Linked DNA regions of Homo sapiens. The protein of the gene in region 2 interacts with the protein of the main gene of each other region in a pairwise test. Each region holds a gene or a part of one and is shown on either strand. Other genes may lie near its edges. The genes, in order: GMCL2, XAGE2 and GMCL1.

Evidence for each region.
Region 1: the proteins of XAGE2 (region 2) and GMCL2 interact in binary tests that used the Homo sapiens proteins (3 or more experiments, as listed by UniProt).
Region 3: the proteins of XAGE2 (region 2) and GMCL1 interact in binary tests that used the Homo sapiens proteins (3 or more experiments, as listed by UniProt).

What each region holds. Positions count from the first base shown.
Region 1 is NC_000005.10:178,184,098-178,192,481, forward strand, and holds GMCL2 (germ cell-less protein-like 2), read right to left. Parts: upstream 3,275-8,384; 5' UTR 3,203-3,274; coding exon 1,622-3,202; 3' UTR 408-1,621; downstream 1-407. UniProt on the Homo sapiens protein: Possible function in spermatogenesis. Probable substrate-specific adapter of an E3 ubiquitin-protein ligase complex which mediates the ubiquitination and subsequent proteasomal degradation of target proteins.
Region 2 is NC_000023.11:52,364,563-52,372,762, forward strand, and holds the start of XAGE2 (X antigen family member 2), read left to right. Parts: upstream 1-4,458; 5' UTR 4,459-4,652; intron 4,653-5,430; exon of another isoform or gene 5,431-5,444; 5' UTR 5,445-5,452; coding exon 5,453-5,533; intron 5,534-6,004; coding exon 6,005-6,110; intron 6,111-7,981; coding exon 7,982-8,107; intron 8,108-8,200.
Region 3 is NC_000002.12:69,867,299-69,875,221, reverse strand, and holds part of GMCL1 (germ cell-less protein-like 1), read right to left. Parts: intron 7,524-7,923; exon of another isoform or gene 7,421-7,523; intron 5,504-7,420; coding exon 5,358-5,503; intron 3,478-5,357; coding exon 3,390-3,477; intron 1-3,389. UniProt on the Homo sapiens protein: Possible function in spermatogenesis. Enhances the degradation of MDM2 and increases the amount of p53 probably by modulating the nucleocytoplasmic transport.

The DNA.
Region 1 (8,384 bases), on a different chromosome or scaffold from region 2:
TTACCATGTTGCTCATAGCTGATCTTAAACTCCTCAAATGATCCGCCTGCCTCGGCCTCCCAAAGTGCTGTGCTTACATGTGTGAGCCACCATGCCCGGCTGACGCCCAGCTGAAATGTAACCTCTTGATAACAGCCAAATCACTGTATTAGAAACATTTAAATTCCAGCTCTGGGGGTCAAGGGTGAGGCATTTAAAAGGTTCCTTTAAGTTAAACCAAGTAGATGAATTTTAAAAGAAAAAGCAATTTATGAACCTATGGACATATCATTAAGAAAGAAAAAAAATTATTAGTAAATTCCAAAAGTTAAAAGGAGTTGGAAAAAAATCTAACTAGAAAGAAAAAAAATGTTGGTTTCAATTAAGGGGGGTTTTTTGGTCCATTTCATATAAGAGCTTACTTAATCTTTTTCCAAATGCGCATTTATTATTTGCACAGATACATACAAATTATTCCCATTTTAAAAGCCAGAATAAAAATATACATTAACCACAGAAGTACTTACTCTAACTGGAAAGAAAATGAACATGGCTCTATTCAAAACAGCAGTAAACACAAAAGGTCAACATATATAAATCATGACAAGTGTACATCTTATTTTTGACAAAAATAAGTTCCATTTTTACATTAATGCGTCATCAGCTTCTATGTTAGATCCTCTGACCTTATTTACATTTACTATGAAATTGCTGTTAGCATGTCACTCAAAGCCACTCATCTCAGAGGGTATCAAGTCCTGAGCTTAAGTAGGAAACAAAACTCCCAACTAAAATTTGAACATAAATAATTGTAAAGATCAGAGAATATTAAAATATTTAAAAGTATAATATCTGGTACATAAATAACTCAAAAACTAATAATAAAGGTGTACAGACTGTCAAAGAAAAGACCATGTAAGACAAGAAATATCCCTGGAATCAAACTGATTTTTCACGCATTCAAGATCATTTGAAGGTGTGAAGCTAACTTTCATTGTTCTTAAAATCCTAGGAAAGCCAAATTTTAAAAAATAGCATATGACAATGCTTAAGTTTAAAAAAAGTTTCTCAGCTTAGTCTCCAAACCAGGAAGAAAGTATTTAATGATTAAAAACAAGTATGAACTGGAAAGATATTAGACTAAAAGGAGGAATCATAATGAGCAGGTAAAAATATTAAAGGAAAGCTTTAAATGCCCCAGCTCAAAAGAGCATTTCTAATTGGCCATCCAAATTATTCTTTTAGATTATTTTAGCCAAATAAAAATAAATTTACAGATGGATAACTGAGGTCCACTAACATAAGGTAGAAACAAAGTTTAAGCTAAAAATTAAATCTATATTTTGTTGCAGATAAATGTGAGATTTACCTACAGTCATTTTCTGCTGATGCTGAATTAAAAGCATGAGTTGACATCGTACTGACAGAAATGGTTTGACAGATATTTTCTTGGCTTTAAAATGATTTTTTTTGTATATGCATAGAAATGCAATGAGGATAAGAATAGTCTTCTGTATTGTCCGTACAGTTCATAAGGCCTTTGTCATTGTTAGTCAACTTAGATGTGAATATCAGTAGGGCCATTAAATTAAAGCTGGCCTGAAAGTTTTCAAAGTGCTACTGTTTCCAACTGATGAGATCTTCAGTTTTCTGGATTTTCTGGGTGACGATTATTTTCAATTCCTTTTTCTGGTGATATATACAAGAAGTTACAGCAGATATATAAAGGGAAGGTCAGAAACCTGCTGTCCAAGTTCATCACCACTTGTTCCTGATCCTTTTTAAGTATAAGTATTTGATAGCCAGTTGTTCTACTACATACTAGTTTTCCACTACTATCAAAAGAAGCCAAGCGTAATCTAAATGCTATGCTCCTTCGAGGCCGTAAACTGACAGACCCGCTGCGTGGCTGATTCAGTGTATTGCGTTTGAAAATGATGTATCCATTGGTGTAAATTACAAGTAGGTCAAAGCCGAAGTTAAAACCCGTCCAACACCAGTAGTATTCACCATCTTTGGCAAGCTTTCTACCACACCTCATGCTATTTCCCTCTAGGTCTTCTTTATTGATTTCTTGAGGCCCTACCTCACGGTCTTGTTCTGCCCGCAGCATAGCAAACCACTGCTGTTTATACACAGAAGACAGCCATTCTGAAGGTACTATACCATCTTGTTCAATAATTCTTGCAGAAGCTAGGTCACTGATAATATATTGTAACCTTAAATGTCTGAATACTGACACAAATGGTTTTCCTGGTTCAGTTTCAAGAAAGGCCATACCTTCAAAATCTTTTCTCTGTTTAGAAAACCAGACATCTGTTTCTGTCAAAAGCTGTTTTAAAGATCCATTCCAAGAAGGCACAAGTTGAAGGAACATCCACTTTTTTAGAGTGGTGTATACATCCATCTCCACTTGCATCACAAATAAGTTAGAGGAACCAATGAGCTGTTTCATGACATTTATACCGAGTTCTTTAAAAAGTTTAACATTCTGGTGAGTCATCAAATTGTTTAGAAGCCATTCAAGGCACTTTTTCTTTACAGAATCTAATCCATAGATCTCTACTGATGTGTAATAACCGCATACAGTTTTCACATTAATTGTTTCCTTCATTGTCTCACCACACTGCTGTATTAAACCATCCAGCTGCAGCATACAAGCTGCTGCCAAAATGGCAACAACTCGACTGGGTTTTATCAAGACATCATCTCGATACAGTGAACCAAACGCAACCTGCAGTGCGTCTACATCAATGTTCTGGTCAGGAATCTCCAGTTCAATAATATTCATGCTGGATTCTTTCCAAGAACCACTGAACATACTAGAAAAGTAGCCAGATTGACATAAATATATTTTGTGTAATCGCCATTCTTCTCCTAGAGCACAAATCTTAATGTCACTGTTTTCACCATTCAAAAATAATGTTTGATAAATATATTTGGATGTACTCCTTAATTTTTTCCTTGCAGGGGTGTTGAGGAGCGGCTGCTGCTTGTCCCCCTCCTCCTCATGCTCCTCCCTGTGCGAGTCCGGGTCACAGTAGCGGCAGGCCCCGCTGCTCCGCTTGCGCTTGTGACTGCCCGGGCAGTAACAGAAGCCGTAGCTCGCCGCATCGTCTCCAGTGTCCGGCCTCCGGGCCGAGCCCCTGGCCCTGGCACCCTGTTCCTGCTGGGCAAGGGCTCGCCTCGGCTGGCCCAGCACCCGGCTGCTCGACGATCCCATGGGTCACGGCTCCCCAGGACTTCAGGGAGCCCAGAGGAGGGGGTCTCTGGCCATGGCCCGGCCGCCGCCGCCAGCCTTCCCCGAGCACAGGTGCCTACACCGCCACCTTCTCACGCGCAGCCCCAACCGTTGCAGCGGACACTGCCGCCTCCAACCTCCGCACCCCTCCCCCACAATTTTTTTTTTTTTTTTTTTTTGAGACGGAGTCTTGCTCTGTCGCCCAGGCTGGAGTGCAGTGGCGCGATCTCGGCTCACTGCAACCTCTGCCTCGCGGGTTCAAGTGATTCTCCTGCCTCAGCCTCCTGAGTAGCTGGGATTACAGGCGCCCGCCACCACACCTGGGTAATTTTTGTATTTTTAGTAGAGGCGGGGTTTCCCCATGTTGGCCAGGCTGGTCTCAAACTCCTGACTTCAGGTGATCCTCTTACCTTGGCCTCCCAAAGTGCTGGGACTACAGGCGTGAGCCACTGCCTCCGGCCTAAAACAATTTCTTTTAGAGACAAGGTTTCACTGTGTTTCTCCGGGTGGTCTTGAACTCCTTGGACAGCATTCTTCATTGCTGGAAGCAATTCTCATCTGGCAGCCAAAACCAAGGTCCGTTTTAGAAGGACCACTTCCCTAGGAGCAAAGTTTTATTTGCAAGACCTGACAAAGGAAAATGTGTGTACCAGACGCTTGAGCCTAACCAGTCCAATGTAAATTTGCGACCAGGCACAAAAATAAAATAAAATAATAAAATAAAATAGGCCAGGCTCGGTGGCTCATGCCTATAATCCCAGCACTTTGGGAGGCCAAGGTGGGTGGATCACATGAGGTCAGGAGTTTGAGACTGGCCTGGCCAACATGGTGAAACCCCATCTCTACTAATAATATAAAATTTAGCCAGGTGTGGTGGTGCACGCCTGTAATCCCAGCTTTTCGGGAGGCTGAAATGGAGAACTGCTTGAACCCAGGAGGCAGAAGTTGCAGTGAGCCAAGATCGCATCATTACATTCCAGCCTGGGCGACAAGAGCGAAATTCCGTCTCCAGAAAAAAATAATAAGATAAAATAAAATAGAATAAAGACTTGAAGTCAAGCCAGGTACGGTGGCTGCTCACACCTGTAATCCCAGCACTTTGGGAGGCCGAGGTGGGCAGATCACGAGGTCAGGAGTTCAAGACCAGCCTGGCCAATATGGTGAAAGTGACCATGGCTGGGTGAAATGATCACTGCAGCCGGTCTGGGAAGGCAGAAGCAAGCAGAGGGCCTGGGCAGGATAGGCAGGGATTCTCTGTGGGGAGGATCTGTGGAGACAGGGGCAGCAGGATTAGGATGTCGGAATTGAGGAGGCTTTTGTCCTTGGGGGATGGAGTGGAGAAGTGGGGCATGGTCCTGGAAATTTGCCCTGCAGCCTCACCAGGCCATCTGGAAGCTACTTGTTGGGAACCCCGTGTGTGTAAAGGGCTGACCCAGGCCCAGACCCGGAGGAACTGGAGAAGGGCACACACTGAGACCACCCGAGGGGTGTGCTGGAACTGCTTGGCCAGTCCTTGGGGATGGGATGGCTGGGGCATGTGGGTGTCTTCCTGTAAGAAAACAGGACTTGATGAGGAAGGTGGGAGGCTGTTCCAGGCAGATGGAGGTCTGTGCCCCCAGAGCAATGTAGGAGTCGCCATGCGGGGCTCCATCTTTGGTACAGTGGGGGCAGAGATTGGCGAGGGGCATCAGGGCCAGATATGTAGGTGTGGGGAGCCCTAGATGGGCCAGTGCTGCAGGGGGAGGCAAGGTCATGCCAGGGAGGTGGATGGGACGCTGGACACAAGTGAAGAGTGACCAGCCCTGTGGCTTCCTCAAACCTATGTGAGTGCCTGCCCCATTCCCAGATGAAGAAAACAGAGGTTTCAATAGGGAAAGTGACTTGTTCTAAATCCCAGAGTTGGGAAGTCAGGAAGCTCAGCCTCCTGATTCCAAAGGCAAATCTGGAGTTTCTGTTGGAGTTAAGGGGCCAGGTGAATGGTCTATGTTGACCAAAAAAAAAAAAAAAAAAAAAAAAAAGCTCTGTAAAATGTTTAAAGAAGTTTATTCTCTGGCGTGAACCCGGGAGGCAGAGCTTGCGCCACTGCACTCCAGCCTGGGTGACAGAGCGAGACTCCATCTCAAAAAAAAAAAAAAAAAAAGAAGTTTATTCTCAGCTGATATGAGTGACCATGACCTGGGGTACAGTCTCAAGAGGTCCTGAGAAAGTGTGCCTCAGATGGTTGGGTTATAGTTTGGTTTTATACATTTTAGGGAGACAGAGGTTACAAGCAAATACATCAATCAATACATGTAAAGTACACATTGCTTCAGCCTATAAGGGCAGGACAACTCCAGGGGAGTTACAGGTCATAGGTGATTCAAAGGTTTTCTGATTGGCAATTGGTTGAAAAAGTTAAGCTTTGTCTAAAGAGTTGAAGTGGCTGGGTACAATGACTGACATCTGTAATCCCAGCACTTTGAGAGGCCGAGGAGGATGGCTTGATCCCAGGAGTTTTCAACAAGCCTGGGCAGCGTAGTGAGACCCGGTGTCTACAAAAAAATTTTAAAAATTAATTGGGCATCGTGATGTGCACCTGTAGTCCCAGCTACTTGGGAGGCTAAGGTGGGAGGATTACTTAAGCCCAGGAGGTCGAGCCTATGGTGAGCCATGACTGTGACACTGCATTCCAACTCGGGGGACAGAATGAGACCCTGTCTCAAAAATAAAATAAAACAGGCCAGTTGCAGTAGCTCACACCTGTAATCCCAGCACTTTGGGAGGCCAAGGCAGATGGATCACTTGAGGTCAGGAGTTCAATACCAGCCTGGCCAATATGGTGAAACCCCATCTCTACTAGAAATAGAAAAATTAACTGGGAGTGGTGGCATGCATCTGTAATCCCAGCTACTCTGGAGCCTGAGGCAGGATAATTGCCTGAACCTGGGAGGTGGATGTTGCAGTTAGCCGAGGTCGCACCATTGCACTCCAGCCTGGGCAACAAGAGTGAAACTCCATCTCCAAAAAAAATAGTAAGATAAAATAAAATAAAGAGTTGAAGGCATGGTGGCTCACGCCTGTAATCCCAGCAGTTTGGAGGCCAAGGAGGGCAGATCACGAGGTCAGGAGTTCGAGACCAGCCTGGCCAATATGGTGAAACCCTGTCTCTACTAATAGTACAAAAATTAACTGGGTGTGGTAGCACACATCTGTAGTCTCAGCTACTCTGGAGGCTGAAGCAGGAGAATCGCTTGAACCCAGGGAGGTGGAGGTTGCATTGCACTCCAGCCTGGGCGACAGAGCGAGATTCCATCTCAAAAAAAAAAAAAAAAGCGTTGAAGTCAGTGGGAAGAAATGCTTGGGTTAAGAAAGGGGTTGTGGAAGCTGAGGTTCTTGTTACGTAGATGAAGCCTCCAGGTAGCAGCCCTCAGAATAGATAGTGAATGTCTCTTTTCAGACCTTCAAAAGTCTCAGACTCTCATTGAATCTCTCCTAAATCTGACAAAGTCCTGGCTACATTAATGGAAATTCTCTACAGATGCAAATTTCCCCCATGGGAGACAGCTTTGCAGGGCCATTTCAAAATATTGTCAAATAAATATATTTTGGGGTAAAATATTTTGATGCCCTTCAGGGTCTGCTATCTGTTACGTGATGTACCAGAGTCAGGTAGAAATTTGGCATCTTATTGCTACAAAAATTCTGTTTTGAGCCAGGCACGGTGTCTCACACCTGTAATCCCAGCACTTTGGGAGGCTGAGGTGGGTGGATCACCTGAGGTCAAGAGGTCAAGAGTTTGAGAGCAGCCTGGCCAACATAGTGAAACCCCATCTCTACTAAAAATACAAAAAATTAGCTGGATGTGGTGGTGGGCGCCTGTATTCCCAGCTACTCAGGAGGCTGAGGCAGAAGAATTACTTGAACCCGGGGGCCAGAGGTTGCAGTGAGCCAAGATCATGCCATTGCACTCCAGCCTGGGCAACAAGAGCGAAACTCTGTCTAAAAAAAAAAAGTCTGTTTTGTCAGTCTTATGATCTCTATTTTATTTATTTATTTTTAATTTATTTTATTTTATTTTTGAGACAGAGTTTCACTCTCGTTGCCCAGGCTGGAGTGTAATGACGCTATCTCGGCTCACTGCAGCTTCTACCTCCCAGGGTCAGACAATTCTTGTGCCTCAGCTTCCCAAGTAGCTGAGATTACAGGCATGTGCCACCATGCCTGGCTAATTTTTTGAATTTTTTGTAGAGATGGGGTTTCATCATGTTGGCCAGGTTGGTCTCGAACTCCTGACCTCAAGTGATCCACCTGCCTTGGCCTCCCAAACTGCTGGGATTACAGGAATGAGCCACTGCGCCTGGCTAGAATAAATACTTTATGCTTTGGGCCAACAGGCAAAATCGAGGGTATGAAGTCGGTAAGTACATACCAAGAAATGAAACCAACTTCCATAATTTGGGGGGATTGCTATTGACAGAATGTCAAAGTTAATTTATGGATGCTGAAAGTTGAGTTTCATACAATTTTTATGTGTCATGAAATATTATTATTTTCATTATTTATTTATTTATTTGTTTATTTATTTATTTATTTTTGATACAGAGTCTTGCTCTGTCATCCAGACTGTGATCTCAGCTCACTGCGACCTCTGCCTTCTGGGTTCAAGCGATCCTCTGCCTCAGCCTCCCAAGTAGCTGGGATTACAGGCACATGCCACCACACCTGGCTAATTTTTTTGTATTTTTAGTAGAGATGGGGTTTCACCATGTTCAAGGCCAGGCTGGTCTTGAACTCCTGACCTCAAGTGATCTGCCTGCCTCAGCCTCCCAAAGTGCTGGGATTATAGGTGTGAGCCACTGCACTCAGCCTGATTTTTTTTTCAATGATTTAAAAATGTAAAAACCATTCTTTGTTCAGGGATCATATAAAATCAAGCAGTAAGCAAAATTTGGGCTATGGGCCATAGTTTGCCAACTCCTGGTCTAGATCTGCCCTGTTCATCATAGTAGCCACTGGCTACATGCAGCTATTGAGTACTTGAAATGTGGCCAGGGACAGTCACGATGGCTCACACCTGTAATCTCAGCACTTTTGGAGGTTAACGTGGGAGGATGGCTTGAACCCAGCAGTTTCAAGTTACAGCAAACTATGATTGCAACACTGCATCCCAAACCTGGGTGACAGG
Region 2 (8,200 bases):
TACAATTCATGGGAAATACATAGTTTGTATATAATTCAGTAGGGAAATAAATATATGTATGTGTATGTGTGTGTGCAGTCTGTTTGAATATTCTATATGCAGTGAATGCTATTTACTAATTTATTTTATCTCATTTCTTCAAAATGCTGTTTGTGGAGGACAACGTTAATCTTATGAACCACTATGGATGACAAACCAGTATGGAAAAGATTAAAGCCTTTTCACAAGATATCCTCAATGGTTAATAAGTGTTATTATAGAAGTATATGAAAAGACACATGAGAACCCAATGTTGTCTTCCTCCTTCGGAATTCAGTCTTTTCAGAAAAAAAATGGTCGTTTTTGTTTGTTTTTTTTTTTTTTGTTTTGAGACAGAGTCTCCCTCTGTCACCCCAGTCTTGGCTCACTGCAACCTCTGCCTCCCAGGTTCAAGCGATTCTCCCACCTTAGCCTGCCGAGTAGCTGGGATTACAGGACTGCACTACCTCACCTGGCCAACTTTTGTATTTTTAGTAGAGATGGGGTTTCACAATGTTGGCCAGGCTGATCTCGAATTCCTGACCTCAAGTGATCCACCCTTCTCGGCCTCCCAAATTGCTGGGAATACAGGTGTGTGCAACTGCACTTGGCCAAAAACGTGGTCTTTGATATGGGCCACAAAGGCTACCACGAAATATGTAATTACAGAGGAAATGTGTGTTCCATCAGCAGATAACCATGTCTGTTTTGCACAGGTGAAGTGTTACTTGGACAGACATAAAATCACATGCAAAAGGGACAGAAAGTACATGTGACCTCTTGTCCTCTTGGTATCATGAGGAGGCTTTGTTTGGGCTGCAGCATAGCTGAATGTCATGAATTGCATCCATTCACGCGGACCTCCCTGTGAATGCACAGGGACCTCCATTTCCCTTTTGTGCTCCCGCTTTATGAGGCAAATAGGGGAGTTGCAATTAACATGGTAGGTAGTAAATAATTTGACCTCAACCAACAAGCAATCTGAAGAGCTCAGGTGACAGTGTTTACTATGGTACTCTGAAAACTGCCAGCTGCTCAGAATCTGTAGACTTTGTCCCACCCAGCCACAGTCCTGTGGAAATCTCAGTTTGTTCATATTCCAGTGCTTGGAGGATGGGAAGGTCTTGTCATGTGGTGAAATTGAGCCCACCCACAGGTAGATGGGCTGTGTTGGTCCCAGCTCCAACTTCTCCTTTAGCAGCCCTCAGAGTTGCTAGCGTCATGTATCAGGCAAGTCTTCTTGCCTCTAAAGAGTTTCTCATACTTTCTGCTGCTTCCTGTGAGTGTCACAAGGGCTACTTCACAACTTGCTCCCATCCCAATCCAATTATGATCCTTTGAACTCATCCAGCTGGACCAGGGTCACCTGCCATGGGAATAACAGGAGGAAGCTCAAATTTGGGAGGAAGTTAAAACCTGCCCTTTGAAGCTGGAGTGTGTCCACTCAGGAATCATTAAAATCCAGGTCCTTGTGAAGCACATCCATCCAGCCATCTGATGGCATGACTTTGACCATTTGCTAATTCGATGCTCACAGAAAATCTAAACCCAGATGTCACTATCTCTCATTCTTTGAACATTTCTGAGTGCACTATACTAAAAACCGGAGTTAATAAGGGAAAAATGCAAGTAAAATTTAGTAATGACAATGTCCTTGCCAAGAAAAAACAAAAAAGATAACAGATAAACTAAATAATAGTTTATGAGTGCCCTCACTCCTTAAATAAACTTTGAGAACTACAATGACTACTCAAGCCACTTTTTGGAGACAGAGATTGAGGAATCTCTTTTTTCCTACTCAGGGTATTTCCTTAAAAGGAGTGCAGCTGTGGCCAGGCACGGTGGCTCACACCTGTAATCCCAGCACTTTGGGAGGCCGAGGTGGGCGGATCACTTGAGGTCAGGAGTTCGAGACCAGCCTGGCCCACATGGTGAAACTCCGTCTCTACTAAAAATACAAAAATTAGCTGGGTGTATTGGCACGTGCCTATAATCCCAGCTACTTGCGAGCCTGAAGCAGGAGAATCACTTGAATCTGGGGGGCAGATATTGCAGTTAGCCAAAGATCATGCCACTGCACTCCAGTCTGGATAATAGAGTGAGACTCCGTCTCAAAAGAAAAAAAAAAAGAAGCTCAACTAGATAGAATATATAGATGTCAGTTCAACAATATATCCTAATTTATTTATAAAAGGCTACATTCTGATCAGGGCTCCCTTCCTATCCTTCCCTTCCATATACTATTCCCCACATTAACTGCTAGGTAATATAAAAGTAATAAGAACAGGAGTCATGGACATAGTTTACTGTCTACATTAACAAGAGTTTATATTCCACTGTCTTCATTATCATAATTTTACTAATACAGGAATCTCTTACCAAGGAAAATAAAAGTTTCAAAAAAACTTTATTGTTCTTTCCAGCAATTGCCTGAAAGATCCATCAACTCCTCAATAAAAAGTGTCAAATGACATTTTTCAATCCCAAAACTCTTTGAACCCATTGCCTAAAAAGTCTTGTTGCATCCACCAATCCTAAATCATTGTCATTCCTACCCAATTCTAACCAAACCATCCCCCACTTTAAAATACCCACTTTATACCGGACATGAAAAGCACAACAAATATACCCAAAGCCCTTCCACATCTGACATACTAGTGCCTCTGTGGAGGTAGTGCTCTACCTTATAGCTTTATTTAAATAATGTCAGCGCTGTCTTATGAACAGGTTATTTGGCTGCTATTTGGGGAGTAGAGTATATGATGAGCACAGTCACCACTGCTGTACATCATGTCACAATAAACTAAGTTTAAATCCTAGGACCAATGTTGTATTAGTCCGTTCTCATGCTGCTATAAGGACATACCTGAGAGTGGGTAATTTATAAAGGAAAGAGGTTTAATTGACTCATAGTTCTGCAGGGCTGGGGAGGCCTCTGGAAACTTAACAATCATGGAAGAAGTGGAAGCAAACACATCCTTCTTCACATGGCAGCAGGAGAGAGAAGAGTGAGCAAAAGGGGAAAAGCCCCTTATAAAACCATTAGATCTTGTGAAAACTTACTCACTATCAGGGGAACAGCATGAAGGTAACCACCCCATGATTACATTACCTCCCACAGGGTCCTTTCCATGACATGTGGGGATTATGGGAACTACAATTCAAGGAGAGATTTGGGTGGGGACAGAGTCAAACCACATCATATGTATGGATATTTCTGAACCATACACTGTCTGAATGACCTACAGGTATATTCAGGGAAATCAGTTACCAGTCCAGAGATTAAAATGTGCAATAATACCACCTAAAAAAGGAAGAGGTGTGAATTTATTTAGTCTACAGAAGTGGTTCTATTCATTGGTAGCATGGCAGAAAACCTCAGACCAGAGAAGGAAGTGATTAATCAAAGTATGAATAAAAATTGGCCAAGGTGGGAGGATCACTCGATCCCAGAAATTGAGACCAGCCTGGACAATGTAGTGAGATTCTGTCTCTAAGTAAATAAATAAATAAAATAGCTGGGCATGGTGGCACACACCTGTAGTCCCAACTACTTCGGAGGCTGCGTCTTGAGTATTGCTTATGCCCAGGAGATCCAGGCTGCAGTGAGGTAAAGTCATGCCATTGCCCTCCATCCAGGGCGACAAAGTAACACCCTGTCTGGAAAAAAAAAGCATGTATAAATATAAACATTAAAATAATTTATTTCTGTCACAAAAGGTCTTTCTGAGACACATCAACCACTAAGGGTGACATGGGACTCTCTGTTCCCAAAGTTTCTGGATGCATGAGAATGGTAGGACAAGAGAGAGAGAAAAAAAAATATCTCTTAAGTCCCTTTCTTTCTACTACAAACATACTGGGGATTCTGGTTTTGGGACAGTGGGAAAACCCTGGCTGGCCTTGCATGTGCCTGACTCAGTGTGAACGCCCCTTACTGCCCAAGTCCCTTGTTGCCCATGCGCCTTACTGTCTGCCTTCTGTCCCAGCAGAGCTGTGCAAAGAGACATCGTGACTTCCTTCTGTCTTGCCGACTAGGAGTCAGCCAGTAGGTCTGCAGTTCAGTAGTCCTAGAAGTTTGAGTGTGAGTGAGTGTGAGGAGGAGCCTGCGGGCACGATCCATGGCCTCCTAGGTGGAAGGGCTTTGAGGTCCCCGTCCTTCTAACACGCAGCGATGCAGCCATGGCCTTGCTGTGGTGGGGGTGCCGGACAAGGGAGGGAGAAGGACCATAGATGGGAGGAGGGTCAGGTAAACAAGCAGTGAGTTTTGAAGGGGGAAACTATTTGTGGTATTTGAGTCCGCGAGGCATATGAAACTGCTTACAGACGATGCATTCCAGAGTCCTCAGTGGGAACCAGGGAGGGGAGGGAGGACTGCATGACGCGGGATGGGGTGGGGCGAGGCGGGGCACTGCAGCACACAACGCAGGCACCGACTTCAGTGTGCATGTTCCTTGGACACCTGCCTCAGTGTGCATGTTCACTGGGCATCTTCCCTTCGACCCCTTTGCCCACGTGGTGACCGCTGGGGAGCTGTGAGAGTGTGAGGGGCACGTTCCAGCCGTCTGGACTCTTTCTCTCCTACTGAGACGCAGCCTATAGGTCCGCAGGCCAGTCCTCCCAGGAACTGAAATGTGAGTGAATGTGAGGAGGAGTGAGCGGGCTTCCAGAGGGTCAGGCGGCGTGGTCTGTGGCCTCAGAGAGTAAAAAGCTTCCAGGTCATAAGGAAGGTGGGCCGCGGAGTGAAGGGGAGCCAGATGAAGATAGGGTGAATGCTCGGGGTGCTGTTGGAGGTATCTGAGTCCCGAAAGTGCCTGGAACTCCCAATGGGACAGATTCCAGACTTCTTGGTAGGGACCCAGGAATGGGCTGTGTAAGCGGTAAGAAAGGGGCCTGGGAAGTGGGAATGCTATGAGCTGGTGACCGCGACCCCGAGGTCTGTAGAGCTCCGGGTAGAAATGTCCAGCGAGGAGCGTCCAGTGATGTGTCACAACTTCTCAACTCCACCCTGGAGGTTCGAATGGGCGGGACTGTGCTTTCCAACAAAACCTTGATTTTAGGGAGGGAAATCGTCCAAACAAATGGGTGTGTGACGAAAGCCGTGGTCACTGCAGTTTTAATTCTCTAGCTGTATAAACTTAAATGTCTCCACTATGGAGAATCCAACTGTGAAACCAAATCTCATCAGAAATATCCTGTATCTTTTGCCAGGAGCATTAAGACATTGCTCTGCTAGATTGCCCAACTTAAGTGGCTATGCAAGCATTCGATTCAGAAGATGTACACACTTCTAGTTGCCCTGGGACTTACTTTCAAATTATTTCCAAACTTTTTTAAAAACTGAAATTTAACATTTGGCCATGAAAGTGGTCAAATACAGCTATCCTCTCAAACACACTTTCCCAATCACAGTATTCTGTTTGCAGAGTGAAATATGAGTTGGCGAGGAAGATCAACATATAGGCCTAGGCCAAGAAGAAGTTTACAGCCTCCTGAGCTGATTGGGGCTATGCTTGTGAGTGCTTTAATATTTTGATGTTTTTTATTAGCAGAAATTTCTTTTGTGATAGTGTTGTTGAACTAGTATAGATACACTGATAAAGGTCTTCCATGTTGATAAAAATGATCATGCATCTCATGAAGGAAAGACTAATCCAAGAGTATTACAATCTGATTTTGCCTTCATGGATAATCTTGTGTTCCCCATCATGACTTCCTCCTCATGCTTACTGATAACAGATTGCACACATCCAACCCAACATAGATTAAAATGGTTTCCAAAGCCTTTGAGGGTAACTGTCTTAGAGTAACCTCTCTTTGGGAAGAGTAACTTTGTGAAGAATAAGTATGTGGAACAGTGTTGGAGAAGTGTCTTTAGACTTACTTGTGATTAGAAATACCTGTGTATTCTGTATATTTGTATTATTGACATGTATTACTAACAAAACTTTTTATCTGCACACATACTGCCTCCCCTTTGTCCCAGGAACCCACTGATGAAGAGCCTAAAGAAGAGAAACCACCCACTAAAAGTCGGAATCCTACACCTGATCAGAAGAGAGAAGATGATCAGGGTGCAGCTGAGATTCAAGGTGCTGGGAAAGGAAAGAAATAATGCCTATAGGGGGAAGGAGGCCTATGTGTCCATCATGCCTTATGCCATGACCAGTAATAGGAGGAAAGAAAACATTAGGAAAGGATCTCAAGCACTTGCTCAAAGTAGGCTGGAAAAGTGAAGAGTATAGTTTGCAGCTTCATGCAGTCCCTGGATATAATAAATCTTCTCTTTTTTTCAAGATTTATTTTGTATGCTTGAAAATACATCCCTTGCTAAATCAGATGAAACTGTTTAATTTGATGTATCAAAATGTACATTATTTCACTTGATTAATTTGATCTTCTTAGAATGTTGCTGTATGATTGGCTCAGCCATGGTGTCCACAGTGTTATAAGCACCCTTTTATAGCATATAGAGTGCCAAGTCACCCTACCTTATAACACCCTGAATAAAGCCCATTTGCATAGGGATATTAGCCCTATTTTATAAAAAGGAAATGGTTGCTCAGAGATAGAGGCTTACCAAGAACGCTTGAGTCATGGAGGCAGAATTCATATTACGTTCCAAGGTCTGTGTTCTTCCTAACATCTACGTTATTAGAAAACGTGAATTATTTTGCTTAAAACGCTTAATACTCGAATGTGTCTGTACTGTAAGGTACTTGAGTATTGGCTCAGGAGAAAACAAATTCAGTGAAGCAGGATAGCAAATCCGGAAAAGGGCTCAATGAATGACAGCCACTGTTCCCTTTGATCAGTATTTTTTGACAGTATGTTTGGTAAAAGGTGGATAGTTCAGGACACTGGCATACAGGTAGGTATATTAGTATGCTTTTTAAGGAACTTTTAAAAGTTGCCTAAATACTTTTATAATTAGAAAACTCAAAGTATGATACAATTATCATGAAACAGAAATTGTGTCCTCAACAGATAGCATTTTCAAGCTAAAGTTGACGGAATTTGGACCATGGATTATTTTAGCAGTTCACGGTTAAGAGGTTTCCAGAATATGACTGTCAACAACACTCATTACTTTCTTTCACTCAATTTCCTGAATTCTCATGGGAAAACTGTGACTTTTTTTCCTCTTATTTTTGGTACTATATTCTCAATAGGATTTATTTATGAAAAGTTACATTTAGGGCCTTTGGACCTAAGCATAATTTTAATTAATTTTAACCAAATAATTTTCAAATTACCTCAGCAAGATATGGTTGTCACAATTGTAAGTTTTTGTCATAAGCCCAGGAATACATTGATCTAGTCTTTCAGAAAATTATCTTTGAGTTATTATTAAAATGCTATTCATGCAGCAAACTTCAGATATCTTACATAGTTGATACTCACTGTTTATAATGCACACTGGCAAAGTATAGGAAATGAAGGTGTAGTGTGATTTATCCTTAGATTGTCATTTTATATTAGATTTCAGGCCAGGTACATTGGCTCACACCTGTAATCCCAGCACTTTGGAAGGCCGAGGCTGGTGGGTCCCTTGAGCCTGAGAGTTAGGAACTAGCCTGGGAAACATGGGGAAACACCAGAAAATTTTCTCTGCCAAAAAAATACAAAAATTAGCCTTGGTGGTGGCATGTGCCTATAGTCTCAGCCTCTCACAAGGCTGAGACAGGGGGATAACTTGAGCTCAGGAGGTCAGGGCTGCAGTCACCTGTGACTGCACCCCTGTACTCCAGCCTGGATGACAGAGTGAAACCCTGTATTAAAAAACAAATAAAATAGGAATTCATAATACAGGAAAACAAAAGTGTGACAGCTTTGCATCACATTTATTATCACACTAGCCTACAGGCTTTTATGTCATAACTCTGTGGAATAGAATATTATTACTTCCTTATTTATACTTCATGTTTTTGTACTCAAGTTCAATAACCTTTGTATTTTTTAGTGCCTGACCTGGAAGCCGATCTCCAGGAGCTATGTCAGACAAAGACTGGGGATGGATGTGAAGGTGGTACTGATGTCAAGGGGAAGATTCTACCAAAAGCAGAGCACTTTAAAATGCCAGAAGCAGGTGTGTTATTCATTAAGACACAAAGTTATGTGATTTCTATTTTTTACAATATTATACTTTTGATCATAGAGAGATAATATTACTGCCACTTTA
Region 3 (7,923 bases), on a different chromosome or scaffold from region 2:
CAAATACTCCAAAGTAAAAAATTAAGCCATAAAAAGAACAGAAGAATATATAGATGACTATTTATATAATCCTAGTAAGATGGAGGCCTAAGGATAACACCAAAAAAAAGAAATCATAAAAGAAAAAGATAGATTGTTTTGAAGGTTGAAAAGACAAATGACAAAAATGTAAAAACTGTTTGGGCCTGGTGGCTCATGCCTGTAATCCCAGCACTTTGGGAGGCGGAGGCAGGTGGATCACTTGAGCCTAGGAATTCCAGACAAGCCCAGGCAACGTGGCAAAACCTCGTCTCTATAAAAAAATACAAAAAAGTTAGCTGGGCATGGTGGTGCGAGCCTGTAGTCTCAGCTACTTGTGAGGCTGAGGTGCGTGGAAAGGTTGGGCCCAGGAGGTGGAAGCTGCAGTGAGCCAAGATTGTACCATTGCACTCCAGCCTGAGTGACAGAGTGACAACCTGTCTCGGAAAAAAAAAAAAAAGTAAAAACTATAGAGTATCACAAATGTATTTTTAATATATAAAAGCTGTTAAAAATTAGCAAGAAAAAAATGAAATTTTAATAAAAAATTAAACAGGAACAATATAAGCTGTCAGTTTACATGAGATGATACGTTCAATAAGCATAAAAAAACCCAACAATACAGTAACCAAAGAAATGAAAATTGAAAATTAAGGGCCAGGCGCGGTGGCTCACACCTGTAATCCCAGCACTTTGGGAGGCCAAGGCAGGTGGATTACTTGAGGCCAGAAGTTCAAGACCAGCCTGGCTAACATGGTGAAATCCTGTCTCTACTAAAAATTAGTGCACTCCAGCCTGGGCGACAGAGCAAGACTCTGTCTCAAAACAAACAAACAAAAAGAAATGAAAATTAAAACAAATATTTGTTTTCACATTTACTACGCTGGGATAGAGATGAAAAAGAATAAGATACAATATTGGGTATACTCTCCTGTACTGCTGCCAGGGGGAAGTATAAATTGGACAGTAGCTTTGGAGGGCAATTTGGCCATTAGAAAATTGTATGCACCATGCAACAAGAATTCTACTTCTTGGAATTTATGCTTTAAAAATATCATAAAAATGGACAAAGATATATGTATATTTCCTATAGTAATGAAAAAAAATGAGAAACAACTTTATCCAATAAAGAGGAATTATCTAAGTTACGGTATAGCCAAAACAACTAATATTATGCCGTTCATAAAAATGATGCTGTGAATATATATTTATTGACCAAAAAAAGCTATGTACAACAAAGTGAAAAAAAAAAAAAAAGGTTACAATTACTACCTCACTGTCTGATGCACCTAGGCTCACCTGGCCTTGGGCTCTGAAAGAGGACCAAGCCTTTCTTCTACTGGGCCCAGGCCAGGTGACCCCATTTTGCCTCTCCCCCAGGCCTGACCACTATGCGACCAACAAGTTCTCCCAGGCCACTGACTTGGCCATGAAGAAGACAGAGGACAACAATGCACTTGTGTTCATTGTGGATGTCGAGGTCAAAAAGCATAAGATCAAACAGGCTGTGGAGGAGCTCTATGACACCAATGTGGCCAAGATCAACACCGTGATCAGGGCTGATGGAGAGAAGAAAGCCCATGTTCAGCTGGCTCCTGAGCATGCTGCTTTTAGAGGCTGCCAAAAAATTGGGATCATCTAAGTTGAATCCAGCTGGCAAATTCTAAATATATATGTTTTTCACCATTAAAAAAAAAAGCAGGTTACAAAATAGCTAACCTACTGTGATCCAATTTTGCAAAAATGATACAGGTGAAGGAAAAACTCAGCAATGTATCTGAGTGGTACATGTATGATTGTTGTTTCAGCTGACTCATATTTTCTATTTTTTCGACAACATCTATAACCTATATAAAACACGGAGACAACTCCCAAAGTAAATCTCCCAAACTCCATCCACAGCCCTCATGCCCTGGCTCTAGTTATACTGAACTCTTCCAACCATCTTTCAGTTCCTTGAATATGACCCATGTATTCCCTTGCTTCCGGAAATCTTACTCACCATTTGAGGCTTGGTTCAGGTATGCATTCACTTTAACACTTTTCCAGGAGAGGATGTTTTCCCTGAGCTGTCTTTCTTTCTCCTCCTCCTCCAATAACCACCCCCAACCACGGCAGCTGCTCAGTTACAGGTCAGAGTCTTCTCCCTCAAGGTTGCACACTCTGAGCTAATTCTATCATGCTACTTACACTAGGCTATATTAACACAAGCCTGTCTTTATTTCTTCTACTTCTAGCTGAGAACCAAGCACATGGTGGGGACACAAATGTTTGCTGAAGGAACATGGGAATACAACTATTATCTTGGCCTGGTGCTTTTTTAGGTCTCTGGCTGGGTTTGAGCCATGACAGTATTTTTCATGAAGTTTCAGGTAGAAGATAAAGATAGTCATTGTCTGTTCAGCTGCAGAGGTTACAAGAAGGACCAACAGAGAGTTCTGATGGAGGCAGATTTGGACTTTCTCATTATATACCTGCCTTGAAATGGACATTCCTACATATTACCTTTCATGTAAGATGGGGGTCAGTTAGAGTTTCAACAATGGGTGGATGACCCCCTCTGTAAGAATGCTGTTAAAAGAAGTTCTCATATAGGGCATGTGAGGTTACAATGATCACTTCCGGGGTTACTTGCAATGCTAAGGATGTTCTATGATAGTCTCTTCAGTCTGAGGAAAACTACTAACTTCTCATAATTTATGTAAACTATAACAGGCTTTGAATCCTTTAATAAAACATTATGCCCTTTGGAATGATGATTACTTTTAATAGAAATAAAGTTCCTCAATATTTTAACAGCTTTCAGTTTTACTTTTAAAAATGGTCTACTTTCTCATCATGACACTTTGAAACTTCTCCATGTGTGTGATGTATGAATAAATAAATGGCTTTGGAGATAATCTGGGGAACATTGCAGAGTTTGCCATCTTACGAACCTAATGGGCTAGAGAATAATGCTCTTATGATATTCGGAGCTATGGAGACATACAGGATTGTCTTTAAGATGCCTGCTGTGAATGTATAAATAAATGCACTATGTACACAATGGATAAAGCACTTAAGATTCCTAAAATTTTAGGAATGAATTTTAGTGCTGCTGATATTCAGGATAAACAATTATTTCCTTATAATCAGTGTTTCCCTGCCCCTCAAACAGTGTTTTCTTTTTTTCTCCTAATTATGCTTCCATTGGGATGGGGTCAATTATGCATAAGTGAATGTGGTACTTTCATCTTTACCTTCAAAAGACTTTTAAACCAACTTTTAGGTCAAAATGCCATCACTTTAATGTTAATTCTACTTAAGAATTTTCAAAAGAGGATTCAAAAGACAAATATTATGATGACATACCAGAAGATAATCGAACATACCTGATCCTTTTCAAGTGTAAGTATTTGATAGCCAGTTGTTCTACTACATATTAGTTTTCCACTACTATCAAAAGAAGCCAAACGTAATCTAGGATTAAAAAAAAAATAAAAAATAAACACAAGATTTTTAAACCACAGATTAAACAAGCTCTTCCTTACTTTCATATTTACTTTTTCCTCTGTTTTTTATTTGATAAAAGACTTTTAGGAAGTCTTTTCAAACTGTAATCTGACTGCATTCAGTGACAAGCCTGTGCTATTATACATATCTGGCCAAGAGAAATCATTTATAAATGTTTTTATTGTGGTAAAATATACGTAACATTTATCATTTTAACCATTTTAAAGTATATAGTTCTGTGGCATTAAATATATTTCCACATTGTTCTGCACCCATCTCTAGAACATTTTAATTTTCCCTCGCTGAAGCTCCTTACCCATTAAACACTAACTCCCCACTTTCCCTTCCCTCAGGCCCTGGCAACCACCAGTGTATCCTCTGTACCTATGAATTTGTCTACTCTAGGTACTTCGTATGAGTGGAATCTTACAATATTTGTGCTTTGTGAGTGGCTTATTTCACTTGGCATGTCTTCCAGGTTCATCCATGTTTAGCATGTATGAGAATTTGCTTCCTTTTCAAGGCTAAATAATGTTCTATTTTATGTATATACCACATTTTGTTTCTCTAGCATCTGTCAGTGAACATGTGGGTTGCTTCCACCTTTTGGCTATTGTGAATAATGCTGTTATGAACATAAGTATACAAAAATATCTGTTTAAGTCCCTATTTTCAATTCTTCTGGTCTATAGAAGAGAAACTGCTGGATCATATGGTAATTCTGTTTAATTTTTTTGAGGAAGTGTCATACCATGCTCCATAGTGGCTGTGCCATTTTACATGGCCACGAGCAGTACACAAGGGTTCTAAATACTCCACATCCTTGCCAACACCTGTTACTTTTGTTGTTTTTTTTCTATTCTGTTTTTACTAATAGCTATCCTAATAGGTGTGAAGTGATAGCTCATTGTGATTTTGGTTTGTATGTCCCTAATTAGTAATGTTGAACATCTTTTCATGTGTTTATTAGCCATTTATATATCTTCTTTGGAGAAATGTTTATGGAAGTCTTTGGCCCATTTTTGAGCTGAGTTGAGTTTTCTTTTTAAATTATAGAGTTGTAGGAGTTTTCTATATATTCTGGGTATTAATGTCTTATCAAATGTAGCGTTACAAATATCTGCTCTCATTCCATGGGTTGCCTTTTCACTGTCTTGACACTGTCCTCTGATACACAAGTTTGTGATTTTGATGAAGTCCAATTTTATCTACTGCTTCTTTTGTTGCCTGTGCTTGGGTGTCTTATGGAAGAAATCACTGCCAAATCAATTGTTATGAAGCTTTTCCCCTATGTTTTCTTCCAAGAGTTTCATAGTTGCAGTTCTTATGCTTAGATCTTTGATCCATTTTAAGTTAATTTTTGTATTTGGTGTAAGGTAAGTATAAATATATGACTTTTAAATCATGTTCATTAAGCTACTGTCCAATTTGTCAGCTTCTGGTATCCTCTCAGAAAAAGATTGCCAGCAACTACTGGGCAAAATTTAACATATTAAATCCTTTAAAAAGTTAAGGATAATATGTGTTTTCCTGGAAACATACCTTGCTACATATTTCAACAGTCTGGATCTTTTATTTGCTAGGAATAGCAACAAGGCAACGACTTCAAGGCTGATATTCCCTACTGGTATATATTCCAGCCTATTCATTCTCCCTGACATACTAGATCCTATGATTCTGATTACTAACAATAGATTTCACAGGAATGGAGCCTCGTCATTTCCTACCACTTCCACATATACTGTAGCTTACCAAAGTTCTACTAATGTTGGTGTAAATTATCAAGGTTTTATTTCTTATATTTTCTCTGGAGTGAGGAGGAGTGGGGTGGGGAAATCTCATCCTACCTAAATGCTATGCTCCTTCGAGGCTGTAAACTGACAGATCCGCTACATGGCTGATTCAGTGTATTGCGTTTGAAAATGATGTATCGATTGGTGTAAGTTACAAGTAGGTCGAAGCCGAAGTTAAAACCTGTCCAACGCCAGCAGTACTAAAAAATACAAGAGAGAAGACTTATTTCAGTTTATCATATTAGCAAGTAGAAAATAAAAAATTCAAAATGTCTTTTTGTCTCTAACTCATTCCAAGTATTTCCCTCATGGGTGGTCGACTTTTTGTCAGTGACTTTTTCTTAAGGCTTACCACCCAAAACTATTTATCTAAGCTAGAAAAGCTGCCCTTAATGATCATAATTCTCTAAGCTACTTTCCTCTTCATGATCAGTTTCCTTATCTCTCCATACTGCAATTCTACCATAAATAATAAGGCTTTTTTTTTTTTTTTTTTTTTTTGAGACAGAGTCTCATTCTGTCACTCAGGCTGGAGTGCAGTGGCATGATCTTGGCTCACTGCAACCTCCACCTCCCGGGTTCAAGCGATTCTCCTGCCTCAGCCTCCCAAGTAGCTGGGACTACAGGTCCCTGCCACCACGCCCGGCTAATTTTTTTTTTTTTTTTTTTGAGACAGAGGTTTGCTCTAGTTGCCCAGGCTGGAGTGCAATGGCATGATCTTGGCTCACCACAACCTCCACCTCCCGGGTTCAAGCGATTCTCCTGCCTCAGCCTCCTGAGTAGCTGGGATTACAGGCATGCGCCAAGCCTGGCTAATTTTGTATTTTTAGTAGAGACGGGGTTTTTCCATGTTGGTCAGGCTGGTCTCGAACTCCCGACCTCAGGTGATCCGCCCGCCTCGGCCTCCCAAAGTGCTGGGACTACAAAGTGTAAGCCACTGTGCCCGGCCTTTTTTTTTTGTATTTTGAGTAGAGACGGGGTTTCACTATGTTGGCCAGGCTGGTCTTGAACTGCTGACCTTGTGATCCACACGCCTCGGCCTCCCAAAGCGCTGGGATTACAGGCGTGAGCCACTGCACCCAGCAATAATAAGGCTTTTCACTGCAACTCTAAGTGGGTATATAGCTTAGAGCACTAAGAGTTTCTAGAGCACTAAGGTAATTAAGAGCCCATTAAAATCCACCTTGCTTTAAAAATACTCTTAAGGGCTGGGTGTGGTGGCTCACGCCTGTAATCCCAGCACTTTGGGAGGCCGAGGCGGGTGGATCACCTGAGGTCTGAGGTTCAAAAACAGCCTGGCCAACATGGCGAAACCCCATCTCTACTAAAAATACAAAAAAGAATAAAAAAAAATAAAAATAAAAATAAAAATAAAATACTCTAACTCAAGTAACACACAACTGGGTTATTTAAATATCATCATGGGGTTCACGAGTTTGTTTATTCTATCAGCTAATAGTTAATGTGAGAGTATCAGATAAGGTAGTGTGATACAGAGAAGTAGTTAGGGCTTCAAGTGTTTGGCTGACACCCTGAATTGCAATTCAGTATTTAACTGATATTTATTGAGCACATATTATATGCCAGGCACTCCTCTAAGCAATGGAATCATAGCAGTAAATAACATACAGTTTCTGCCCTAGTAGAGGTGATAACTGTAAGGGCAAAGCTTTTTTTTTTTTAAAGAGACAGGGTCTCGTTATATTGCCCAGGCTGAACTCTAACTCCTGGGTTCAAGCAATTTTTCCACCTAAGCCTCCCAAGTAGCTGGAATTGCAGGTGCATACCACTGTGCCTGGCTGGAGCAAAGCTTTTGAATAGGTGAGCATGGATAGAGTCCAGTACAAAGAGAGGGAATGGACTAAGATAGAAGTAGGCAGTTCATTTTTCTAATAAGATGAAATGCATAGCGCATAGCTACAGGTGCAGGTAGACTGGCAGAACTACTGGTAAGATGATGTACAGATTCTCTTTTCATTGCAGTAGGCAGCAAGGCCATCAGATAAGAATAAGGGTGGGAGCATTGCCCTTTTAAGGAGAGAAGGTATGAGTTACCTCAGCTAATGGGAGGATCAATTCACTAGGAAAATGCAGACAGATCATGATGCAGCACTAACCTACTTCAAGTTCATGGTTACCACATTCAAGTGGAACCCAATGGGGTACGGTGTTTGTCTTTAATCACATTCATCTGTCTGGATGCAGGCATGGAGTGCAACCCTTGACAAGAGTTGGGGTTTAGCCAGGTGAGTTTAACATGTCAATGAGGAAAAAGAAAAGTTAAAAGAGTATAAGCAAGGGACCAATTTTACGATGGAACATAAAATATAAGTCAAGCAAAATAAGAAGTAGAAATGTGGTCAGAAAGGTGATAGGGAAAGGTTGTAAAAACAATGTATTGTATATCCAGAATGGAGTTAAAAAATTGTTGGAGTCCAGGTGCTAGAGAGAATGAGCTAGAAAGACGAGGTGGGGTCTGAAAACGGGATGCCTGAAATGGAGATTTTGAAGGTGGTGTAGTAATTAATAATGCAAAAATTGAGGGTATGCTCACAGGAATGGATGCCTGAGGTAGGGTGGAGCACAAGAGCATGGGGGAAGGAAGGTCAGGGAACAGAGA